7 linked regions of the Homo sapiens genome follow. The protein of the gene in region 5 purifies or fractionates together with the protein of the main gene of each other region. This does not show direct contact. Each region holds a gene or a part of one and is shown on either strand. Other genes may lie near its edges.

The links.
Region 1: the proteins of GGH (region 5) and ZMYM3 purify together in Homo sapiens (affinity purification with mass spectrometry; 2 studies listed by BioGRID and IntAct, with this or other methods). This does not show direct contact.
Region 2: the proteins of GGH (region 5) and MKLN1 purify together in Homo sapiens (affinity purification with mass spectrometry; 3 studies listed by BioGRID and IntAct, with this or other methods). This does not show direct contact.
Region 3: the proteins of GGH (region 5) and SYT2 purify together in Homo sapiens (co-immunoprecipitation; one large-scale study listed by IntAct). This does not show direct contact.
Region 4: the proteins of GGH (region 5) and LRWD1 purify together in Homo sapiens (affinity purification with mass spectrometry, with the first as the bait; one large-scale study listed by BioGRID). This does not show direct contact.
Region 6: the proteins of GGH (region 5) and DCAF8 purify together in Homo sapiens (affinity purification with mass spectrometry; 3 studies listed by BioGRID and IntAct, with this or other methods). This does not show direct contact.
Region 7: the proteins of GGH (region 5) and ITGAV purify together in Homo sapiens (affinity purification with mass spectrometry; 2 studies listed by BioGRID and IntAct, with this or other methods). This does not show direct contact.

What each region holds. Positions count from the first base shown.
Region 1 is NC_000023.11:71,239,076-71,241,769, forward strand, and holds the end of ZMYM3 (zinc finger MYM-type protein 3), read right to left. Parts: intron 2,270-2,694; coding exon 2,152-2,269; intron 2,034-2,151; coding exon 1,841-2,033; 3' UTR 549-1,840; downstream 1-548. UniProt on the Homo sapiens protein: Plays a role in the regulation of cell morphology and cytoskeletal organization.
Region 2 is NC_000007.14:131,494,482-131,497,295, forward strand, and holds the end of MKLN1 (muskelin), read left to right. Parts: 3' UTR 1-2,151; downstream 2,152-2,814. UniProt on the Homo sapiens protein: Component of the CTLH E3 ubiquitin-protein ligase complex that selectively accepts ubiquitin from UBE2H and mediates ubiquitination and subsequent proteasomal degradation of the transcription factor HBP1.
Region 3 is NC_000001.11:202,703,929-202,707,613, forward strand, and holds part of SYT2 (synaptotagmin-2), read right to left. Parts: intron 1-3,685. UniProt on the Homo sapiens protein: Exhibits calcium-dependent phospholipid and inositol polyphosphate binding properties. May have a regulatory role in the membrane interactions during trafficking of synaptic vesicles at the active zone of the synapse.
Region 4 is NC_000007.14:102,467,957-102,470,983, forward strand, and holds part of LRWD1 (leucine-rich repeat and WD repeat-containing protein 1), read left to right. Parts: intron 1-105; coding exon 106-231; intron 232-306; coding exon 307-421; intron 422-597; coding exon 598-698; intron 699-898; coding exon 899-1,106; intron 1,107-1,617; coding exon 1,618-1,690; intron 1,691-1,785; coding exon 1,786-1,926; intron 1,927-3,027. UniProt on the Homo sapiens protein: Required for G1/S transition. Recruits and stabilizes the origin recognition complex (ORC) onto chromatin during G1 to establish pre-replication complex (preRC) and to heterochromatic sites in post-replicated cells.
Region 5 is NC_000008.11:63,018,267-63,021,951, forward strand, and holds part of GGH (gamma-glutamyl hydrolase isoform 1 precursor), read right to left. Parts: intron 1-3,685. UniProt on the Homo sapiens protein: Hydrolyzes the polyglutamate sidechains of pteroylpolyglutamates. Progressively removes gamma-glutamyl residues from pteroylpoly-gamma-glutamate to yield pteroyl-alpha-glutamate (folic acid) and free glutamate.
Region 6 is NC_000001.11:160,255,987-160,259,671, forward strand, and holds part of DCAF8 (DDB1- and CUL4-associated factor 8), read right to left. Parts: intron 1-3,685. UniProt on the Homo sapiens protein: May function as a substrate receptor for CUL4-DDB1 E3 ubiquitin-protein ligase complex.
Region 7 is NC_000002.12:186,666,406-186,670,090, forward strand, and holds part of ITGAV (integrin alpha-V isoform 1 preproprotein), read left to right. Parts: intron 1-298; coding exon 299-378; intron 379-744; coding exon 745-825; intron 826-1,265; coding exon 1,266-1,371; intron 1,372-2,356; coding exon 2,357-2,515; intron 2,516-3,295; coding exon 3,296-3,409; intron 3,410-3,685.

The sequences.
Region 1 (2,694 bases), on a different chromosome or scaffold from region 5:
ATGGGGTTTTGCCATGTTGCCCAGGCTAGTCTTGAACTCCTGGGTTCAAGGAATCCTCCCACCTTGGCCTCCCAAAGTACTGGGATTACAGACGCAAGCCACTGCACCCAGCCTCCCTGTAAACCTGAAGTGAGTTATTTATTCCTCTGTCCTCCCATAGCACTATTCATTTTATTCTGCCTGTATTATGACTAATTGTGTACTATTTGGTCTCCCCTATAGCCTGGGAGCCTGCTGGGGATTGGATCCTGGTCTAACCAGTCTTTTTGTATTTTTTGAAGCACGTAATCTAGGTCTTTAAACATAATAGGTCCTTAATACATAGCTAGTGAGTGAGTATTTTTTTTTCCTTAAGTGTTTGGAAACTTGTTATAAAAAAAAAACAAAAACAAAAACAAAAAAAACAAAAAAAACACCACATTCCCAGTAGATCCAAAGTAAGACAGTAAAGTAAGAACGATTCTCAAACACCTGACTTGTTTACACTTGGAGAGATTTGAAGTTATCCAGTGTTGCTCCTCTATATCCATCACCCAGAAAAGACAAAAGACAATTTTAACTCTTTATTTGAAACAAACAATTTCAGAGACAGAAGGTTAGTCGTGACAACAGCTTCTCACTACAACACAAGGGTGGGCATGGCTCACTGAAGGGACAGGCCAGGCGCCTCAGAACAATATATACAATTTAAACAGTGGCTAACTGGTGACAGTTATAAAAACACAAAAAGGAGCCTGGGAAACAGCAAAGTCAACAGGGAAAGAAGTGGGTACCCCCTTTGCCAGAAGCTAATTGTTTTCTGGGACCTCCAATGCAAGATGGGGAAGAGAGAAGATGTAGGCAGTGGCGGCAGGCCCTGCGCCCACAGCTCCTCGCCTGTCCTTTGACCACAGATCCCATCCTGCATGACTCAAGGTCCCATAGGCTTGGCCTAGCTCTTATGATAGGGGAACAATAGAGGGGAACCCAGCCTCAACCCAAGTCAGAAGGTAGTTTTTGCCTTGGGAGGTCTGTCCATTGAACTAAAGGGAGGCAGTTACAGAGGGGGCTAAGCATGTTGACACCATGGCTCATGGCAACCTAAGATGGCAGAGAGACAAACACAGAAACCAAGGGGACAGGAGTCTGCACAACAGGAGTCTGCTCCCCGTACTTAGTCATTCTCTGCCTCTGAGGAAAAAAAGGCATTTGGAAGATTTTAAAAACGGCAGCACCAAGGATTGGTGCTTGCCGAGGGGGTGAGGGATATGCGGTGGTGAGATGGTGCCAACAACCAATTATTTCATAGGAGGGGAAGAGTGTCTAAGCTCTGTGTTTTATGTAAATGGTCCCCTCATCGCTTTCATTGTTTATTTCTTACCTTTCAGATAAGACCTTTTGGCATGGTGCTGGGGAAGAGTAGAGAAGGGAGTGGGCACAGGGCAGAGAAGGCAGCTGGGTTTTTCCCTAGGTCATGCCTAGGAACAAGAGGCTCTACCTATGCGGGATGGGTCAGGAAACCCAAAGCCAACAGGATCACCAGAGCTATTAACACTCCACCCAGAGTCTGGACCCAGAAGGAGGGGTTTACTCTGAAGCATAAAGAAAACGGGCAAGCTGGCTTTTGCCCATCACTGGGAGACCAGCCCCTGAGTACAGAAGACCAGGGCCCCATGGTTGTCAAGTGGTACGGAAGAAGATAAAAGCCAGGGTTCCTAGAGAAGGCAGGGAATGGGTGAGCGGAAAGGAGCAGTCAGGGCCCTTCAGAATGAGTAGCATTGGTTCCTGGGCCTGTCACCCTGAGGGACATGGCCACAGGACAGACATTGATGTGAAAGATGGATATGGATGGCACACGAGCTCAGTCCAGGTCTTCCTCCCCAGGACGACCCAGTTCCTCATAAATCTCGCGCACAGCCAGGATGCGATTGAGCATGCTCTCCAACATGCTGCGGTCCATGGGGATCACAGAATACCAGAGAGGTGACTCGGCGATGCAGGACCGTTCAGGTTGCAGGTAGAACACATCGTTGCGAGTCCGGAGGCTTTCAGGACTGCAACATCGGGGGTGGGAGTGGGAGTGGGGGTGGCAGGACAGAAGATCAGTACCAAGGCAAAGTAGATCCCTCGGGTCCCCATGCTAACGCTTTTCCTGCCAACCCACCAACTCACCATTTTGAGAGATAGAATTCATAGAACTTGACAGGGCAGCGGAGGGGATTCATGCGGTTCTCACGCTGCTCTAAGATAGGGGCTTCATCTTCTCTCTTCCGTTTTCCAGGACCCGTGTCTATAGGGGAGGGAAATGATTCAGACTCATTAAGAACACAGGCTCCATGAGCCACATCCAAGAGCACAGTTCAGGGCACAGGGAGAAGGCGTCACGACACAAATTACAGTCTCATCAAGATGGAGAGGTGGAAGAAGAGGTCAGTCTCCCTCTCCCACGCCAACCCAACATCCTGTCGGGCTGTTGTTATGCAACCCTCCCCAGTTCCCACTGCCAAAGACTCTCTTTAAAATCTCCCCCAAGTTGCTATCTTGAAGAGGTGATCTCAGAAGTTATTCAAAAGACCTGATAAAACAGACCCTACTGCAAGGGTGGGCTTGCCTTCTGGGATAGAGAAACAGCAATGACCCCAACCCCTTGTGCATTAGTCCAGGTAGAAGCATGGGTCCAGAGAAAGGACCTTGGAAACTTCACTCAGACAGGAC
Region 2 (2,814 bases), on a different chromosome or scaffold from region 5:
CCAAATTTAATAAGATATCAAAGTCCAAAAGGTTACTTAGGAGTAGTCTTCCGTGGGGGAAGATAAATTTATTAAAGAGTCATGTACTGATCTTTTTCTTGGGATTTTTTTTCCTTTCCCAGAAAAAAAAATTATTTTGGTGACTGATCAATTGTAAACAATTTTCTTCCTTACTTACAAATCATCCGTTCAGAAAAATAAAAGTGGACTTCCTTTCCTAAGCATTACAATTAGCCTGGGCAAGAGGTGTTATGATTGTCTTATTCTTTAAGCCGGCTTACTTTTTGGATTTGTGTGAAATGTCTTTTGAAAAGAAAGTAGATAGTATAGTATTAATTAACTACTTTGTATAGTCTTCTGCATAATTTAGAGTTGAAAATAATGTAACATTTTCCTGTGAACAGATTCCTTTATGCGTACATACTTTATAAATATACATACATACACATACACATACATTTTTAAAATGCTCTTTTTAAAGAGATTCTTATCTTGCTCCCACTCCAAAAGCTATGTACAGTTGAGTTATTAGCCTCAGAGGAAGAGTACAGGAAAGCGAAGATGAGGACCTCCTTTTCTTGTGTTGGTCTTGGGAACAAACAGTATTCCGTCTTTCAAATATGGCATATTTCTAAACAGTTTGGGAAAGATGTTAGAATTTTTTAAAAGTCAGCTCTTTTATAAATTGGAAGTACTCAGTAGTCAGAAATTAAGATCCCCTCTGATAGAGATAGATTCTCAAAACCAAAATTGGACTGAAAATTAGATTGAGAAGAAAGATACAACTTCCTCCATAGCCAATAAAATCTGTCTTTCCAAGTCTGCTTATTAATGCTGTGAATCGCTCCTTCTGTTTGTGAAAACATCTCCTGGACTGGAAATGTGGTGCTGTAACCAGCTGAGCCGAAAGTTGGAGAATGTTAAATATCTTATATGGGACTTACGATAAAATGTATTGATGTTAGTGATTGTCAAAATAGGTTTATCATTTAAAAAACTAGGAAATTACTAAGTATAAAGAAGAAAAACCAGTATTAATTAAGTGATGAGACCTGTTCATTTTGTTTTCCCTGACTTATTTCCATTACCAAACATAGTAAAGGCCAGAAAAGATTAAAAAAAAAATTAACACAGCCATTCCATTGTTTTTTACCACATGGAGAAAGGACCAGGCTGGAAGCATATGTCCCCCCACCCTTATTTATATTCCTTTGAGCATTGCCGTTTTCTAGACAGACAATCCGAAAATAATTGTGTTGATAGGTCTGTTTAAGCCTGAACTCTGGGTGTAAAATGTTATCCAGAAGCTATAGGGAGCTGCCTTGCTCAGGTCATTGGAAATTTCAACCCTAAGACTCATTGGAATTTCTAAGTCCGTTATGCACCATTATGGGCATATGGAGCATATTCATACCATGAGGAGGAGTCTTTGTTTATGATGGACTTTTTAATATGGCCATAATTAAACTCACACTCAAAAAGGATGAGCTATTGTCAAAAGCCAAAAGAAAAACAGACAAAATGAACATGAAGCAAGGAGTCCATAAAACAAGAGTTCTTTACCACGTTTAAGCAAATGTCTCTCAAAAAAAATTGTATTTCTGTGCACATTAGCTGAGATTCACACATTTTGCACCTCAGTAGTATTTCAGATGAGACTCAATGTGTGGAGAAAACCGCTAACTTGTTTGGTTCTACTCTTACCCCCTCTTCTGTGGCAATGTGGGGTCAGGGCCGTATCCTAAAGTATCCACATGGTCTTAAATGGAAATCATGGGACTCTGGAAAGCTGGCATGAGCTGGTTGGAGCTTTTAAACAGAAGTGCTTTATGGGTATCAGATCTCTTCTGACATCAATTGTTTCAAATCATTGTTGGGCTCTGTCGTGTTCTGCAATCTTCCCCATTCCCCTCATGATCTCTGGCTTATCTTTTATCCAATCTGTATGGACTTTTTAGGATTTTTTTTTTCTTATAGTACAAATAATTTTCAGATCCCAGCTTTGGTAAATGTGTTAATTCTACTTTGTGAATAAATAAATGAGTGATCTGCTAAAAATGGCAATTGTAGAATTATGTTGTATGTAATGTACATATGGAGAAAGAATGTATTTTGTTCATTTTCTTAATAAAATGTTATATATGGATGCTACAAGATATCTCTTGTATTTGCTCAAACTACTTTTGAAGTGAACTTTTAAAATGTTTTTGTACTTTACAGTTGTGTTTTTTCCCCCAGAAAGGTGAGTTTTATTTAGGCTTCCAAAAGGAAAGTGATACGCTTTCGAAGGGCCTTTGGGTGTTTTCCTTTGAGACGGTGCTCAGATGAACAAGTACCGGCCATGCTCACAAAGTTTCTGCGGGGAGGCTTCCACTTATTTAAAGACCACTGGTAAATTATTTCATGAAATGTTCTTCTATCTACTGTTAATGACCACCCTTATTTTATTTGCTTTGTCCACTTGGACTTATGTTCCTCTTTAAAGGGGATATGCTTGTACAGGCTGGAACTAGAAGGAAAGACTGAACTGAAATGGAAAATTCACTGTAGAAAAGATAGTAAAGGGAGAGAACCTAGAAGTGTTGCAGTTTGGGAAAATTCTGGATCCCTGTCCCCATTAAAGGGGAAAGACACTTTATGGGCCAAATCTTGAAAAAACTAAGCTGAGAAATATGCCAGATAAAAGTCCTGGGTCACTGGGGCCGAGTGGTGGGACTCTTAGTAATGAGATCCCCTCTCTGCCCTTTCCACCTCCTGGTCTGCTTTACATCGTGGCTTTGTGATCATGCATTCTGGAGTGAATTGTCAGCTGAT
Region 3 (3,685 bases), on a different chromosome or scaffold from region 5:
TTCCAGAGCCACTGTATCAACCCAATTATGGCAAGTCCTGCCAGAGTTCTCCATGGTCTGAGGACTCCCTGCCTTACTGAGAGGCACCTGACAAATGCCTCGGGGGAGCTTTCCTGACTCCCCACCCAGCTGCTGTCCTCCCCTGGTCCCAGACTGTCCAGTGATGAGGCCCTTGGGCTTCTAGTTTCTCTGCAGGGGATGGGAGGAAGTGAAGCAAGCTTTGTGATTGAGGAAAGCCTTGTGTTGACAGGCGACTATCCTGGGGTTGGAGAGCATCTGGGAGCCCTGTCACTCTGCACCAGCCACCATCAATGCTCCCAGCTTCAGAACTCCACTTTGGGGGCTAGGGGGACCCAGGAGAGGAGGAGAAACAACATGCCCTGGCCTTGGGGAGCGCCCAGGCTGATAGAGGAGACACGGTTATTTTGAGTTCTCCTTTACATCCCAGGTGCCTTTTACAGAGTAGGTGCTTAGTGCATTGGAGTGGAACGTGGAGGAAAAGGCGGGAGGAAAGTAGGAAGTAAGGAAGGAATGGGGTGCTCTGGCTCAGGCTGAGTTTAGACTCTGGCTACACCTGCACGCAAGGGTTGACTTTTGGGCTGTGAGTCCCATAGGGATCTGACTTCTCAGGTCTGGAGTCTCCGAAGGAGAGAAGCAGTCACACACCCACTAACTCCCATTCTCCCTGCCTTTGCAAGGGGCCCTCCTCCCCAGCCCACCCCTAGGACCCTGAATACACACATATGCACACACACACGGCTGCTGGGCTTCAGAGGAGCCGTTTAATTGCCGAGTTGAAACCTGCAAGGGCTTTTGGTGCTGATGACATCAGCATGCCATCACAGATAGGGCTGCTGAGGCTGGAGCAGCTCTGGATTCAGCGGGGTGTCCCATCATGCACTCAAGACTGCCCACCCTGGGGCCTCCCTCCTTGCTTCAGAGCAGGTGTTCCTGAAGGAGGTGCCAGAGCCCTTATGGAGAGCCCAAGGAAACCCAACATCAGGGAGGGAGAGCTGATTCAATTCCTCCAAGGAATCACTGCCTAATTTTTGTAAAGGCTGCTGCCTGATTTAAATCACCCAGCCTCCTGCTTCTACTCAACGCGTTAGTGGCCTCATCCCAAGGACCCGCACCTGTATTCTCGGGCTCCATTTGCCATAGGTAGAGCTGGTGAGAAGCGGCGAGGAGAGGAGGAAGGGTTCTGACCACTCAGCTGCTGTGGCCTGGAAGGCCCCCTGCAAAGTGCCTATGATCTGGGGATTTTGAACAACCACACAACTTCTCTGGGGATTTTGAACCACACAACTTCTCTGGGCCTTTGCCCGTTCATTGTAAAGTGGGGACAGCGATGGCGTAGCCGAGGACTGCAGTGATGAGAGCTTGACCGCCCTTGTGAGCCGCTCTATCCCCGAGCAGGGGAGCAGGAGGCGCAGGGAGGAGCCCTGAGGTTCCCTGTTGTGCGGGACCCACACTGACTTTGCCCTTTCTTATGCCTGATGCTTAGTGTTACTGACAGCAAAAGCTGAAATCCTGAGGTCCCCGGCTAAAGTGACCAAGGAAGGGCCTCTCCTGACTTTACAGCAGCAGGTAACCCCCCTTTCTTTCAGATTTGGAGGCTGCTTGGCCATTTTAATGGACCCTGCTACTCACATCCTACTTCCCTAAGTGTGAGGGGCTTTCAGAATCTAACCTCCTCCCTGGCACTCAGCCAGCAGGGACTTTATCCTCATCAGAAAATGATCCAGGGAGGAAGCTTCTACAATATCTACTGCTCATCTTGGATTTTGGGAGTCCTTTTTTTTTTTTTGAGACCGGATCTCACTGTTTTCCAGGCTGAAGTGAAGTGGCATGACCATAGCTCACTGCAGTCTCGACCTCCTGGGCTCAGGCGATCCTCCTGCTTAACCTGGTGTGCCACCATGCCCAGCTAATTTTTAAATTTTTTGTAGAGACAGGGTCTCCATATGTTGCCCAGCCTGCTCTGGAATTCCTGGGCTCAAGCGATCCTTCTACCTCAGCCTCCCAAAGCGCTGGGATTACAGGTGTGAGCCACTGCACCTGGCCTGGGGAGTCCTTCTGGATGTTTAATTTTAGACCCAGCCTCTCTAGGGGAGGGGGCTGGCAGCTAGGTGTTCCCCTGCCCTCCAGGCTCACAGTGACTCTCAGGTCCCTCTGGGCCTGGATCCAAATTTACCCATCACTCTGGCTACTTCCTTGAACTGTCAGTTCCAGAGATGAAAATGAAGGATTGCTGGGACAAATCCTTCCCAGAAATCAAGCTTTGGCAAGAAAAGACTCATTAGGCATAAAAACCGTCTTCGAGTGAGGGGGATGAAATGCAGGACTGACCACCAAGACGGTGAGGGCAACTCCTTCCCTTGAGTTTTAAGAATATCAAAGGTGGACAGTGCTCCCTGCAGCTGGAGAACCCAAGACAGTGTTGTGTGTGTGGGCAGGAAAAGGAGCACGCAGGCCACCCAAGGATGAAAAGCACTTACTCCTCCCGCGCCAGGCACTGTTCTACACGCTTTACAGGAATTAACCCATTTCATCCTCACCAAGAACAATCTACGTCATAGTTACAAATTTTAGCTCCATTCTACAGATGGCAAGACTAAAAAACAGAGTGTGATTGACTCGCCCAAAATCACAGCAAGTGGCAGAACCAGGATGAACCCTGGCAATCTGGCTGTAGTCACTATACTGCCACTTAGAAAAAAATCTCTGACTTGATGTTTCTCCAATGAAACTATATTATTTATCACAGGCTTCTGGAGTCCAGGAGAAGCCATAACTGAATCCCAGCTTCTCTGGCCTGGCTTCTCTGACTGAGTGGAAGATGAAGAATCAACTTGTTGCCTATGGATGGATTATTCACGTAGGGAATTTAGAACTGCATCTGTCTGGTGGTCCAGGGGCTACTTCTAAAATAACACGAATAGTTATCAGTTCTACAATACTACCCTGAGAGTTAAGCATTATTACCTCTGTTCTTTAGAGAAAACTGTGCAGACATTGTCAGATCATCCTGTTACATGCTCTCGAAGCTTCCTACATACCTTCATAACTCTTGGCACAGTCATGATGAATTCTTTATGTAATTATCTAATTGTGTGGTATTCACTAGATTGTAAATGCCACGAGGGCAGGAAACAGGTCTGTTTTGTTCCCACCTGAATCTCCATTGCCTAGCACAGATTCTCAAAATGCAATAGTGGAACGAATGCAGAAGGGATGCTGAGTGGCTCAGTAACATGTGTAGGGCCTGCGGCTGTGCTCACCTCCCCACCCAGAGAGACTACAATAGTGGCACATGGTAGGTACTCACTAATAAAATACTTGTTGCAAATGTCAGACTTTGTACTTAGCAGCCCTGGGATTTGAACCCAGGCCTGTCTATCTCCTAGCCTCCATTCTTTGGTGCTTCATATTTAACCACTGCACTGAGTGACCCTGCCCCCCCATTACTCCCTCTGACTTGCTGTTCCAGTTCTTAAAGAGTATCCCCACCACCCTGGACCTTCAGTGGTGGGGATACTCTGGCTTCAGCTAGGACCTGCCTAGACTGGGGAAGTCCACAGAGCAAATCCCAAAGCCAAGTGAAGTAGTGTTTCTACTCATCTGCAGCCTTAAGTCCTCCACGAGGATGCTTCTGTCCAGGGAAGGGAATGATGGTCATTCTTCC
Region 4 (3,027 bases), on a different chromosome or scaffold from region 5:
CCAGCCTGGGCCTCCTGCATCCGCAGTGAGGTGGGGTCCAGCCTGTGATGGGGAGGAAGGAAGCCCCAGGCAGACAGGCCCATGGTCACAAGGCCCCCTCCACAGGCCAGACTGGCGGCCTTGAAACGGCCAGACGACGTCCCACTCAGCCTCTCTCCCAGCAAGCGGGCGTGTGCCTCCCCGTCGGCCCAGGTGGAGGGCAGCCCTGTGGCAGGCTCCGATGGCAGCCAGGTGAGCTGAGGTGGCAAGGAGCAGGTGGCAGATGAGTCGGGGCTGGGCAGCTGTGACCCTTCTCTCCCCCCACAGCCTGCTGTGAAGCTGGAGCCCCTGCACTTCCTGCAGTGCCACAGCAAGAACAACAGCCCCCAGGACCTCGAGACCCAGCTGTGGGCCTGTGCCTTCGAGCCGGCCTGGGAGGAGGGTACATGGTGGCGGGCAGGCGGGGCAAGGGCCGCTGGAAATAGGGCCGCCTGGATGGGTGGGGGATCAGGAGACAGAGCTTAAAAGGCGCCATCAAGGCTGGGAGGAGGAGGCTGCAGGGAGGACCTAGATGGGAAATGTCTCTGCTCATCCGACCTCTCAAAACCGGGCACTCAGGGGCCACATCCCAGACCGTGGCCACGTGCGGCGGGGAGGCTGTGTGCGTAATTGATTGCCAGACGGGCATCGTGCTCCACAAGTACAAGGCACCCGGCGAGGTGAGTGCAAGGCCCTGTCCCTGCTGGGCAAGGGTGCCCGACTGACTCCTGAACAGCAGCATGGGGATGGATGCAGGCTCGGCCCCCTGCCCCATGGCCTTTTTCTTTCATGCTGGGGCTCCCTCCCCCAGGCCCGGGCTACCCGCGTGTTCACACCAATAGCTCTGCCCCAGTGACTGTTTACTCTAACCCCCGCCCAGGAGTTCTTTTCTGTGGCCTGGACCGCTCTGATGGTGGTCACACAGGCTGGCCACAAGAAGCGCTGGAGTGTGCTGGCGGCTGCAGGCCTACGGGGCCTGGTCCGGCTGCTGCACGTGCGTGCCGGCTTCTGCTGCGGGGTCATCCGAGCCCACAAGAAGGCCATCGCCACCCTGTGCTTCAGCCCCGCCCACGAGACCCATCTCTTCAGTAAGCCCCTCCCCTTCACCCCTGGGACCCCCAAGCACCCCTGTCCTGCTGCCCCAGTAGCCTCCACGCTCCCCTCCCTGGGATGGCTGTGAGCTCGGGCGCCTGCCGGGCCCCAGTCTGCACCGCTCCGACTCTAGCTTTGGCAGGAAGCCATGTCGCTTCAACCCTGGCTTTATCCACAGCCTGCTCTGTGGCCTCGGAGTTTTCCAACAGCCTGGGCCACTCTGTCCCCTGTCAGTGACCTGGGGGGATGCCCCTGCCCCCGGGTGTGGCGCCCCTGTCAAGGGGGATGGATGAGCCACAGGAAGTGGCCGCTGGAGCCACCGCATCAGGTTAGATGGAGGAAACAGGGATTGGGGGCCCAGGAGTGTTCCTGTCTCCTAGCCTCGGCCCGCCCTCCCCGCCTCGGAGGGGCTGGCCTTGGGACCGTGGGCTCAGCCTGGGATGCAGCCAGCAGGAGGGAGCAGGGTCATCTCAGGGCCACTTCTCCCCTACCCCACCCCCTCTTCAGCGGCCTCCTATGACAAGCGGATCATCCTCTGGGACATCGGGGTGCCCAACCAGGACTACGAATTCCAGGCCAGGTGATGCTTCGGGTGAGGCTGGGGAGTGGCCAGCTGCTGGGGCAGGGACACCTCGGTCTGGGTCTGATGCTCTGTTCCCCCTTGCCCACTGGCAGCCAGCTGCTCACACTGGACACCACCTCTATCCCCCTGCGCCTCTGCCCTGTCGCCTCCTGCCCGGACGCCCGCCTGCTGGCCGGCTGCGAGGGCGGCTGCTGCTGCTGGGACGTGCGGCTGGACCAGCCCCAAAAGAGGAGGTGAGGCTGGGCAGGGGGCGCCTTGGAAGCCAGGCCTCTGCAGAGGGTGGCTGTTGGCCCAGATGGGCTCACAGCAGCCTGGGCACACCCGGGTAACCATAAGGGTTGTTTTTAGAGGCCTCTTCGCAGAGCTGGCTTGTCCCACCTTTCTGCCAGGCTCTGGAGGAAAGGACTCTGACCCTGCTCTCACCCTGGGTTCAGCTGTGGGACTGGGCCATGATGACCTCCCCTTCACCTGGGGCTTCAGCACCATGCTGTGCCCACGTGATCCAGCCCACTCCTGCCACTCATCAGCAGTGTGATGGTCCTCTGTGCTGGCATAATGTCCTCATCTGTAAAGAGGGGCCGATGGCTAGCGGAGGGCAGGTGAGGTGGTGTCTGGGCAGGCAGGCTTTGGAAGTGCCACGTTGAGGCTTTCTGGCTCATCTGTCCCACCTGGAAGGCCTCTGAGACAGGGCTTGGCAAGGGGTCCCTGTCCTCTTGGGGCCCCCAGCCTACTGGGGAAGACAGATGCTCAGCAAAGGTGGCCAATCAAAATCCCACAGTGTGATGCCAGCTACGAAGGAGACGGAAAAAGAGTAACGGGCAGAGGGACACTAGCGTGGGGGCCTCAGGGGACTCTGCTGAGGTGACCAGCGGCAGATGGATATTCTGGGGCTCACGCTTTCCTCCCTGGGAGCCTGGTGAGGGAGTCAGCGGGCGGAGGGTGGGGAGGTGCTTGCATGGAGGAAATGGTACGTGCAAAGGTCAGTGGCAGGGGAGCCAGCTGGCCTGCTCCACCATGTGGCCACAGCTGGGTGGACCCAGCCCAGAACAAGGTGGCAAGGGTGCCTGGGCGGGGCACGCCGGGCTTCGTCAGCCACGGTAAGCTTTGCATTTCTATTTATTTACTTTTTATTTGAGATAGAGTCTCCCTCTTGTCACCCAGGCTGGAGTACAGTGGCTCGATCTCGGCTCACTGCAACCTCTGCCGCCAGGTTCCAAGTGATCCTCCTGCCTCAGCCTCCCGAGTAGCTGGGATTACAGGCGCACGCCACCATGCCCGGCTAATTTTCTTTTCTTTGAGATGGAGTTTCACTCTTGTTGCCCAGGCTGGAGTGC
Region 5 (3,685 bases):
AATTCCACAATTCAAAAAAAAAGTGAATATGTGTAATAGTTACCTTCAGAAAAATGTACATATTTGTCTCTTCTTCAGATGTGCCTTTCCTCATTTTGATTTAAAAAAAACAAATCTCCCCTCTATTATTTTCTGCTTTGGAATTGTAACCATGACCACCATCAGAAAGTACTTGGAGAAATGAAGTGAATTAATGAAAGAAGAGATATCTAGGGGTAAGAGCACTGTCTGTTCTCATCCCAGTAAGCTTTCTGACTAGAGAGCAGGCCACAGAAGGGAAACATTTTATCCCAGTTTTGTGGGTATTCACGAGAGGAAACACCTGCCTCATGCAGCTCCAGGCACTCAGCTCCCTGCCTCCCCCACTTCCGTGTGACACTGCCGTTTTTCCCCTCTATTCTGGGACTACCTGTGAAGCTACCAGCAAGAGACCCACAGGCTGGGGGACTAGGAAATTGTTACATAGAGTTAATTGAAAGGCAGACCTTCTAGTATATTGGATATAAATCTTTTTTATGATTTAAGACTATTTTTGTCCTCAATAATGCTTCATGCGTTGGAAAAGATACATATATATAAGAAATCTTCAAAAAGCTCATGGAAAACGTGTATTATGAAAAAAATTATGCAAGGATTTCACCATTTTTTTGCACCAAAATAAACTTGTAGTAACTTGTATGAACAGGATCCAGTATGAGGCACTAAGAAGGACAAGACATCAGTTTTAAAAGAACCCCTGTAACAGCAATATGAATTTTGCTAAAATTGAAGGCAGAAAAAATAGCAAATTTACGGTGAAGCTTGGATGGAAGAATGGTAAAACCGCTGATGCTTTACAAAAAATTTATGGGGATAATGTCCCAAAGAAATCAGCAGTTTACAAATGGATAACTTGTTTCAAGAAGGAATGAAACAATGTTGAAGCCCTCAGGGCAGACTATTCACATCAATTTGCCAGGAAAATATGTATCTTGTTCGTGTCTTAACTGAAGAAGATCGCAAATAAACAGCAGAACCAACAGCCAATACCACAGACATCTCAGTTGGGTCAGCTTACACAATCCTGACTGAAAAATTAAAGTTGAGCAAACTTTCCATTCGATCGGTGACAAAACCATTGCACACAGATCAGCTGCAGACAAGAGAAGAGCTTTCAATGGACATTTTTAACAGGTGGGATCAAGATCCTAGAGCATTACTTTGAAGAACTGCCACTGCAGATAAAACACGGTTTTACCAGTATGAACCTGAAAACACAATCAAAGCAATGGCTACCAAGAGATGGAAGTGGTCCAGTCAAAGCCAAAGTGAACTGGTCAAGGGCACAGGTCATAATGTTTTTTTGGATGCTCCAAGGCATTTTGCTTGTTGATTTTCTGGAGAACCAAAGAACAGTAACGTTTGCTTTTTATGTGTTTTCAGAAAGTCAGCCAAAGCTTTAGCAGAAAATCGCCCAAGAAAGCTTCACCAGAGTCCTTCTCCAGCATGACAATGTTCCTCCTCATTCCTTTCATCCGAGGGCTATTTAGTGAGCATTTTGATGGGAAGCCATTAGGACCTTATGGTCCTGATTTGGCTCCTTCTGACTTATTCTTGTTTCCTAATCTTAAAAAAATCTTTAAAGGGCACTCATTTCTGTTAATAATGTAAAAGACCGCATTTGACGTGGTTCAATTCACAGGACCCTCAGTTCTTTAGGGATGAACTAAAAGGTTGGTATCATCATGGGCAAAAGTGTCTTAAACTTGATAGAGCTTATTTTGAGAAATAAAGTTTACAGTTTTTATTTTTATATTTTAATTCCATTTTTCCCACAAACTTTTTGAAGTCACTGACATTCAGTAACGAGTGAGATTTACTCTTCTTTAGTAAACTGCATTACTAAAAGACCAGTGCAGTTTCCTGAAAACTAGGAATCATGCCCTGCCTCACTGATTTAGACAGAAGTATCAAGAGTGGAAAGAAAATATGCAAATAATAAAGCATCTCAAGTGTTCCTATTTTGGAGGTGGGAGAAAATTTTCAAATGAGCCTGGTATGGCATAGTCAAAAGCAGAACCAACATGGAACCTGATTTCCTAACTTCCAATCCAATATTCTATCATTTAAATAATTAGGCATTCATTCAACATCTATGAGCCCTAGAAACACAAAGGAGAGTAAGATACAGTTCCTGATCTCAACAAGCTTTTCATCTAGAGGGATGACAGAACAAGAGCAAATACATGCATTAAGAAACGTTCCCACACAGCACAAAGCACCAAGGTTGTGGAGAAGAGGAATAATGGTAGAAAAGGCCTCTAGGGATGACAAGTGGCCTGGGTTTTTCGAGATGGCTAAGAGTTCATCAGGAGAAAGGAATAGGGGAAAGGGGGAGCTTTTCAGAGAAGAGGAAAGCACATGAGAAGCAGTGCAGAGGCAAGAAGCATGGCTCTGTGGAGGGACTGTGTGTAGCAAACAGGTCGTGCAGGGTACAAGCTAGAGGTGAAGGCAGGGAGAGGGCATGAGGAAATAAGCTCATAAATCTAGACTTCATCCTCCAATGCAGAGGAGCCACTGAGGAGTTTTGTTCAGGCAATACTATCAGACTGGCACTTCAGCAGACCACGAGTGGGTGGCTGGAAGATGGGTTTGTGGAAGCCTTAAGAGGCTGCTGCTGCAGCAATCCAGGTGGCAGGTGGTTAATGCTGATGTAGCAAGGTACATCGGATTGGGAGGACGAAACATGATTAATACTTCCAAAGCCCTTCTACTGTCCCTCCCACCCCTTCAGCCCAGTGAGAAGGACTCTCATAATTATTCATCACCCCAACCTTTCCTTAGATTTACCACCGAACATTGTTTCTTTTTTGCCAAATTTTAATCATCATATAAATGAAAACATACAGCATGTATTCCCTTGTGACTTGCTTCTTTAACTCAAAATTGTCTTCATGATTCATTCAGTGGTACATGCAGGTGTGTTCACTGATTTTAATAGCTGTATAGTATTACTTATCCTTTGCACTACTGGACTTTTGAGTTGTTTTCCATTTTTTTGCTGGTATGAACAAAATGTCACGTACATTTCTATCTACATGAAATTATTTCATTAAGATATTTTTTAACCAATGAATAAAACTGCCAGGTAACAAAACTGGAAAATGTTTGATTTTACTAAGAAATGCCAAAATGTTTTCCAATCGTAAGTGCATGACAGCACCTGCTGTGCGACATCCTGGGTAACACTAGTTATCAGCAGGCTTCTTAATTTCGCCAATCTGATGGGTATAAATGGTTTTTTACTTTGGTTTCCATTTGCATTCCCTGATCAGAAATTACACTGAGCAACTTATCTCACCAAGCCATAAGTGGACAGGACAATCAAGTTTTTTTGGATGGTATCCATTCAAATCTCATATCCTTTTTTTTTTTTTTTTTTTTTTTGAGGCAGAGTCTCGCTCTGTCACCCAGGCTGGAGTGCAGTGTGCAATCTCAGCTCACTGAAACCTCCGCCCACTAGGTTCAAGCAATTCTCCTGCCTCAGCCTCCCAAGTAGCTGGGATTACAGGCGTGCGCCACCACGCCTGGCTAATTTTTATATTTTTAGTAGAGACGGGGTTTCGCCATGTTGGCCAGGCTGGTCTCAAACTCCTGACCTCAAGAAATCTGCCTGCCTTGGTCTCTGAAAGTGCTGGGATTACAG
Region 6 (3,685 bases), on a different chromosome or scaffold from region 5:
ATTTCCAGCAGCAGAACTAAGCAAACTTTTTTTTTTTTTTTTTTTTTTTTTTTTAAGAGACAAGGTCTTGCTATGTTGCCAGCCTGAAACTCCTGGGCTCAAGCAGTCCTCCCAACTCAGCCCCCCGAGTAGTTGGGATTACAGGTACATGCCACTGCACCTGGCTAAGAGAACTTTCTATAAAAACATCCAGGACCATTTATCTCAGTTTAACTAATTCCTAGGGAAATCTACTTTTCATTTTGTTTCCATCTCAATTTACATTTACATCAGAAGTCTGTTGCCATTAACAGTTTTTGCCATTTATATTTCAAATTTTTCTTAAACTGGAGAGGATTTAAGATGAAAAAATGATGCTCCCAAGGTACAACTTACAATAAAACATTAAAGAGAGGCTTAAAACCTCAAGAAGTGCCTTCCTACAGGTTAGGTTAGAAGAAAGGGTCTAATGTTGGATTCTAAGTAAGGTTAACAAAACATACCTGGTAATGTGGCAATCATTAAAGTACACCAGAGGAATACAGTAACTTGACTACCATTAGAGGTAAACCCTATAGTAGCTTTCCAGATGGCTAAGAAAAAGCCAGGAAGAAAAAAAAAAATGGCACGTGAGGCAAATATGTATGCTTCACTTTAGAACTTGGCCAGACTTCCTTAAACAGTAACTTCAGAGGATAAACAGCAAATATCTAATCTAAAATGTTTGCATTGACCCAATCCACTAGACATACTATTAATACATTTCATTAATAAGATGACATCTTTGTCATATTAATTACTCCCCAATGCCCTATTGGCAACCTCAAGGCAGCCTCCGTTCATTAATTTATCTGTATCATAACACATTCCTGGGGTTAGATGGTACTTGAGAAATCTGGCTTCTGGCCCAGGAACTATGTCCTACAGAGGTAGAGATAAAAAAAAACTGCTGCAAAGAAGTGACTAATTCATAAAATTCATCACTCGCTAATTTTTGAAAAGCTTTCAAAGACTTTCTACTCACTCCAAGAGCAGAATGACTAAATCAATAAAGAGCAAGTAGCCTCCTTTTCTGACTGATTTTAACAGCAATGATGTTTCTTGGCTACATTTGTAAAAATAAAAGATGAAGTTTTTAATATTACTATAAAGCTAATCTAAAACTCACTGGCTTTTGGCTCTAAAATGAAAATATACAAAGTCACTACCCCATGCCTATTGCTGATTCAATTAATTCAGTTGCCTGTGTTCCAAATAGGTGAGGGTAAACAGCAGATTATCTTAGCTCACTGATAATCTGCTTTAAAAAAAAAAAAAGCTAATTCAATCTCAGAGACTTAAAAACTAACTCTAACACCAATGTTATGCAATAAAAAGTCTGGTTTGGATACCGTTATTTCTCTTTTATAATCTGGATATTTCCTAGACATGTTTAGAATAAACTTTTATACAGTAGAAATAATGGAGTAATGAATCTATCTACTGAAAGCATTTTAATAGTCACTTTATGATTTTAAAAGCCTATTACTCCCCTGATAGAATACAAGACTTAGAGCACGAAACTCAAGATCCCAGTCTTTCACAACAGGGTGCGCTTCTATACAATGTCTCCTACTAGAATCTGTTTGCTTTTAAAATGCCAGTATTGTTTTAAACTGGCAACAAAGAGGCTGCTTTCTTTCAGCTCTCTGTAGACAAGCTTCTGTCTTAGGTTGGTCCTACTCCACACTAAGGACCATGGCACTGGAACTGATTCTTTTTTTTGAGACTAGGTCTCGCTCTGTTGCCCATACTAAACTGCAGAGGCGCAATCTCAGCGCACTGCAGTGATCACTGCGCAATCTCAGCTCTACCTCCTGGACTCAAACAATCCTCCCACCTCAGCCTCCCAAGGAGATGGGACTGCAAGTACTTGCCCCATGCTTGGCTTTTTTTTTAAACTTTTTGTAGAGACAAGGTCTCAATATTGCCTAGGCTGGACTTGAACAACTAGGATCAAGTGATCCTCCCACCTTGGCCTCCCAAAAGTGCTGGGATTACAGCCATGAGCCAGCCGCACTCAGCCTGGCAGATTCTTATACATTTAATTGACTGCATTTAGCAGGGTGCAGTGGCTCACGCCTGTAATCCCAGCACTCTGGGAGGCTGAGGCAGGAGGATTGCTTGAGCCCAGGGGTTTGAAACCAGCCTGGGCAATATGGTGAAACCTCATCTTTACAAAAAATACAAAAATTAGCCAGGTACGGTGGCGTGCACCTGTAGTCCCAGCTACTCGAGAGGCTGAGATGGGAGAATCACCTAAGCCCAAGAGGTCGAGGTTGCAGTGAGCCATGATAGTGCCACTGCACTCTAGGTGACAGAGTGAGATCCTATTTCAAAAATAAATAAATAGACTGCACTTTAAGAGGTTGGTGGTGGGAACTAAAAGGTCACAAGCATTCTTAGCCTCCCACTCTAATCATCCTAGGAAATACTACCTAATAAGATGTCACAATTCTTAAGTAAACACCTAAAACCCTGGAAATATAAAAATATCTTCAAGCTGGGTGCTGCGGCTATGCCTGTAATCCCAGCACTTTGGGAGGCCAAGATGGGAGCATCACTTGAGCCGGGCAAGTAAGACCTCATCTCTTTAAAAAAACAAACAAACAAAAAAAAAACAACCAAAAATTAGCTAGGTATGGTGATATGCCCCTGCGGTCCCAGCTACTCAGCTGAGGTGGGAAGATCACTTGAGCCCAGGAGTTTGAGACCAGCCTAGGCAACAAAGTGAGACCCTATCTCTACAAAAATAAAAAAAACTTTAGAAAGATAAAAAGTTTACAGTGTGGTCCACAGACTAGAAATACTGATTTACTACATATAGATGTCACCTGGACATTCTTACCCAGCACATAAGGAAATAAACAGTCCAAGTTATCCCTCTTTCAAAGTATTTCCTTTTCTCCTCCCATCCTTTCCTTCACCCGACATGGATCTTCAGAGTTCATAAAAACACAAATGATACAAATGCAATCTCAACCCACCTCACCACCACCCTGGAGAATCCTTACCTTACAATGGAGAATTTAGACCCTGGATGATGGTAATGAAAAGTTCATCAAACCTAAAATGGTCACTGGTCTGAATGACACAGCTGCTTTCATTGTGATATTATCAGTACTTAATTTTCATGTGCCCTTGCCAAAAAGATACGAAAGAAAAGCCAACAAAAGGTTTAAAACTCTTCATCTGTGCTGTCATATTATTAAGACGGTCCAGCTGTGGAGCTGAAAAAAGAACTCTTTGGCCGGGCATGGTGGTTCACACCTGTAATCCTAGCACTTTGGGAGGCTGAGGCGGGCAGATCACAAGGTCAGGAGATTGAGACCACCCTGGCCAACATGGTGAAACCCCTCCTCTACTAAAAATACAAAAATTAGCTGGGCATGGTGGCGCATGCCTGTAATCCCAGCTACTCGGGAGGTTGAGGCAGGAGAATCGCTTGAACCAGGGAGTCGGAGGTTGCAGTGGGCTGAGATCGCGCCACAGCACCCCAGCCTGGTGACAGAGCAAGACTCGTCAAAAAACAAACAAACAAACAAAAAAAACCTCTTCATTCCTAACTCCCCAGCCCTGATTCACTTTTAAAAAAAGAGACCTTTTCCTCATACAGTTCTTTGATAATTTGTTGATGAGGATCACTGTATAGCCCAACAAGAAGGAA
Region 7 (3,685 bases), on a different chromosome or scaffold from region 5:
TAGACTTTCACTGGATCAACAAACATTTACTTTTGCACTTTTTAGAAAGATGGTTAGTATTATAAGGAGGTATAATTATGATTAATAATTGTTGTTAAATAGGCTCTCTTATGGATTGGTCCAGGTATATTAAGTAAAATAGGTTTGATAGAAAATAAGATTTAGTTATCTTTGTTCAGTTTTATTGTAAGCTCAGAAAAACCCCATTTTAGAACATTATTTTTTATTTAGACATTGGATTTGAAATTTTGCTAATTAGACATTGACTAGCATTACTATCTTTTCCTCTCTCCTTTAGCTCTTAGCTGGTCTTCGTTTCAGTGTGCACCAGCAGTCAGAGATGGATACTTCTGTGAAATTTGACTTACAAATCCAAAGGTATGAAAACAACTTATATTCACTTATAACTATCAAATAAATATTATTTGTTGTAAATATACTATGTAATATACTTTAAATATAAAGTAGCAGATTAAATTTTATTGCTTGACTATAGCATTTTAAAATCAATATTTACATTATAAGAATAATTTTATTGTCAGATTTGAGTTTGTAAAACAAAATTTAAAATCCAGAAAGAAAATGTTCATCTTCTTGGAATTAAGTGTTAATGAAAATAACTATTTTGAGGTATAAGCTTTACACTTGTTTCGTTTGTTAATTTTTAGTTTCACTGGGTTTGCCTCTGTATGTTCTTGGTTGTTATGCATAATTCATTTTTAAGTTTTTTTTTTTCTTTTTCAGCTCAAATCTATTTGACAAAGTAAGCCCAGTTGTATCTCACAAAGTTGATCTTGCTGTTTTAGCTGCAGTTGAGATAAGAGGGTCAGTATGAATACTTAGTTGAGTATCTCATTCTCATGATTGCTTTTTAAAGGTAACTGTCAGGCCTTAGCCTTTTCTGGACAATAGACCCTGCATGTTTAGTGGTGGTTTTACTAGGGCATTAGCTTCTGTAGAAATAAAATCCTAGGTATGTTCCAAACCCCCAATACTGGGTGATCCTCAAAAGGAACAAGACATGGCAACAACATGCACAAAATAATTTTGTTGAACTTTTACACAAATTGTCAATTCACCTGTTACGTGTACATTTCATAAGAGCAGTTTTTGTGCATGTGTGTGTTCATTAGTTTTCTTTTAAAGTATTTTTTAAAATTAAATCTAATTTTATTTATTTGAGTAATGAATATGGGGTACTTTTGAAAATGAACTGACTATATCATTTTGATATTCATGGTAGGTTTTCTTTGGTCATTGTTTAGAGTCTCGAGTCCTGATCATGTCTTTCTTCCGATTCCAAACTGGGAGCACAAGGAGAACCCTGAGACTGAAGAAGATGTTGGGCCAGTTGTTCAGCACATCTATGAGGTTTGCAGTTGTTAGATTTTACTCAAACCTCGTGAGCAAGCCAACGAAGAGAGGAACAACTAAGCTACTTTAAAAAAAAAATTCTATGTAATTTTTATGTAAACTCTACATTGGTTAAGTATGTGTCAGAGATTTCTTTGAATATTTTCCCTATACATAAATTCATTTTTATTTGACAAATAGACTTGTTTAAATAAAGCAGTTTATATAATTTGTTGTTTAAAATAAATTAGTTCTACTTGAATAAAGAAATGTCATTGGTACTTTCTCATGGGCATTTTGTAGTTCTGGCTAAAAATTGAAAATACCTATGGCAAATAATCAAAACTATTTCTATAGGAAGAAATTTTCTTTGTCATCCTTCATTAATAACTTTTAAATATTTTGCCTTTTGTTTATACATACATACATATATATATATATATATATATATATATATATTTTTTTTTTTTTTTTTTTTTTTTTTTGAGGTGAAGTCTTGCTCTGTCGCCCAGGCTGGAGTGCAGTGGCGCGATCTCAGCTCACTGCAAACTCCACCTCCCGGGTTCAAGCGATTCTCCTGCCTCAGCTTGCTGAGTAGCTGGGATTACACGTGTGCACCACCATGCCCGGCTAATTTTTGTATTTTTAGTAGGGACAGGGTTTCACCGACAGGTTTCACCACGTTGGCCAGGCTGGACATGAACTCCTGACCTCAAGAGATCCGCCCGCCTCGGCCTCCCAAAGTGCTGGGATTACAGGCATGAGCCACTGTGCCCAACCTTGTTTATATTTTTATCCTGACACATATTACTCTGTGTTAGAGACAAATGTTGAGTTTGATCATTTTTGCATAAAAATGGTCACATTGTAATTAGAGGTTAACTGTGGAAATTGCTGTTATTTAAAACCTATTGCTAACATGATTTCTAAAGTTGATGTAGGGGAAGGATTATGGAACAGATTTTTGCCCAAGGTGTAGATACATTTTCTTTTTTCTCCTTAGCTGAGAAACAATGGTCCAAGTTCATTCAGCAAGGCAATGCTCCATCTTCAGTGGCCTTACAAATATAATAATAACACTCTGTTGTATATCCTTCATTATGATATTGATGGACCAATGAACTGCACTTCAGATATGGAGATCAACCCTTTGAGAATTAAGGTAATATGCTTAATAGCAGCTCTTCATTACAATGATATTTCATTGCCTTCTTTCTAAACCTGTAAAAGAAATTCATAAAATAAAACAACTATTTTAATATAAAACCCACTCTGCAAAAAATGGTTTAGTTCATAAGCAGTACACTTAGGATAAGTTCATTTGTATAATGGGTAAGAATTGATTCTGTGATGTCTAGTGAACCACATCTTCATAGAGTGCTTACTGAGCCTCATGAGATGTGTCCTTCAGTGACTCAGTTTGACCTTGGCTCCATCACGTTGTTGTTTCTTCAGGGCATAATATCACATCAAGGGTGTTTTGTTGTTAAAATTTCTACCTTTGGGATAAGCTATACCATTTTACTCATGATTATCTTGACTTTTGGATATAGTCATCTCCATCATAGATTTGCACTAGAAACTATTACACAATATGATCTAAGGAAAGGTGAAGAAACAAAATAAAAGATATACCCATGATTGACATCACAAATGTACTGTGGAATTTCAGGCCATTTCTGTATGTTTCATCAGTTTCCACTCTAGCTAAGCAAGGGCTGAAAATAATGGTTAGGGAGAGCTAACTTTTTTGGTACATATTAAAGACTCTAATCTTTATTTTCTGTCCTTACTGCTCACTATATACTGAGTGGTAAATATTCTGTCATACTAAATTTTCATTCACTATTTTTTAATCATATCTAAGAGTTTATATCAAAATGCTGATGTAAAATGTTTTTCATTATCATTTACCACCATTTTATTAATGTGATTGCATTAGATCTCATCTTTGCAAACAACTGAAAAGAATGACACGGTTGCCGGGCAAGGTGAGCGGGACCATCTCATCACTAAGCGGGATCTTGCCCTCAGTGAAGGAGATATTCACACTTTGGTAAGTGCCATTTCAAATATGTGCACCATAGACATTTAAAAATATGTGACTATAGAACTGACGCCAAAGAACATTTCAAAAATAACAACAGCTGTGCTTGAACAACTACATTTATTTTTATACCATGCATTCCTCTCACTTTCCTTTTTCCTAGTCAGATTAATGCCATATTTTCTTCAAATGAGCTATTTTTGTAGATGGCTAATAAAACTAGTTTATGTCCCAACTTTGATTCTCCTACTCTAGTTCTTTAACTGTCCTCTTTCTGGGCCTCCT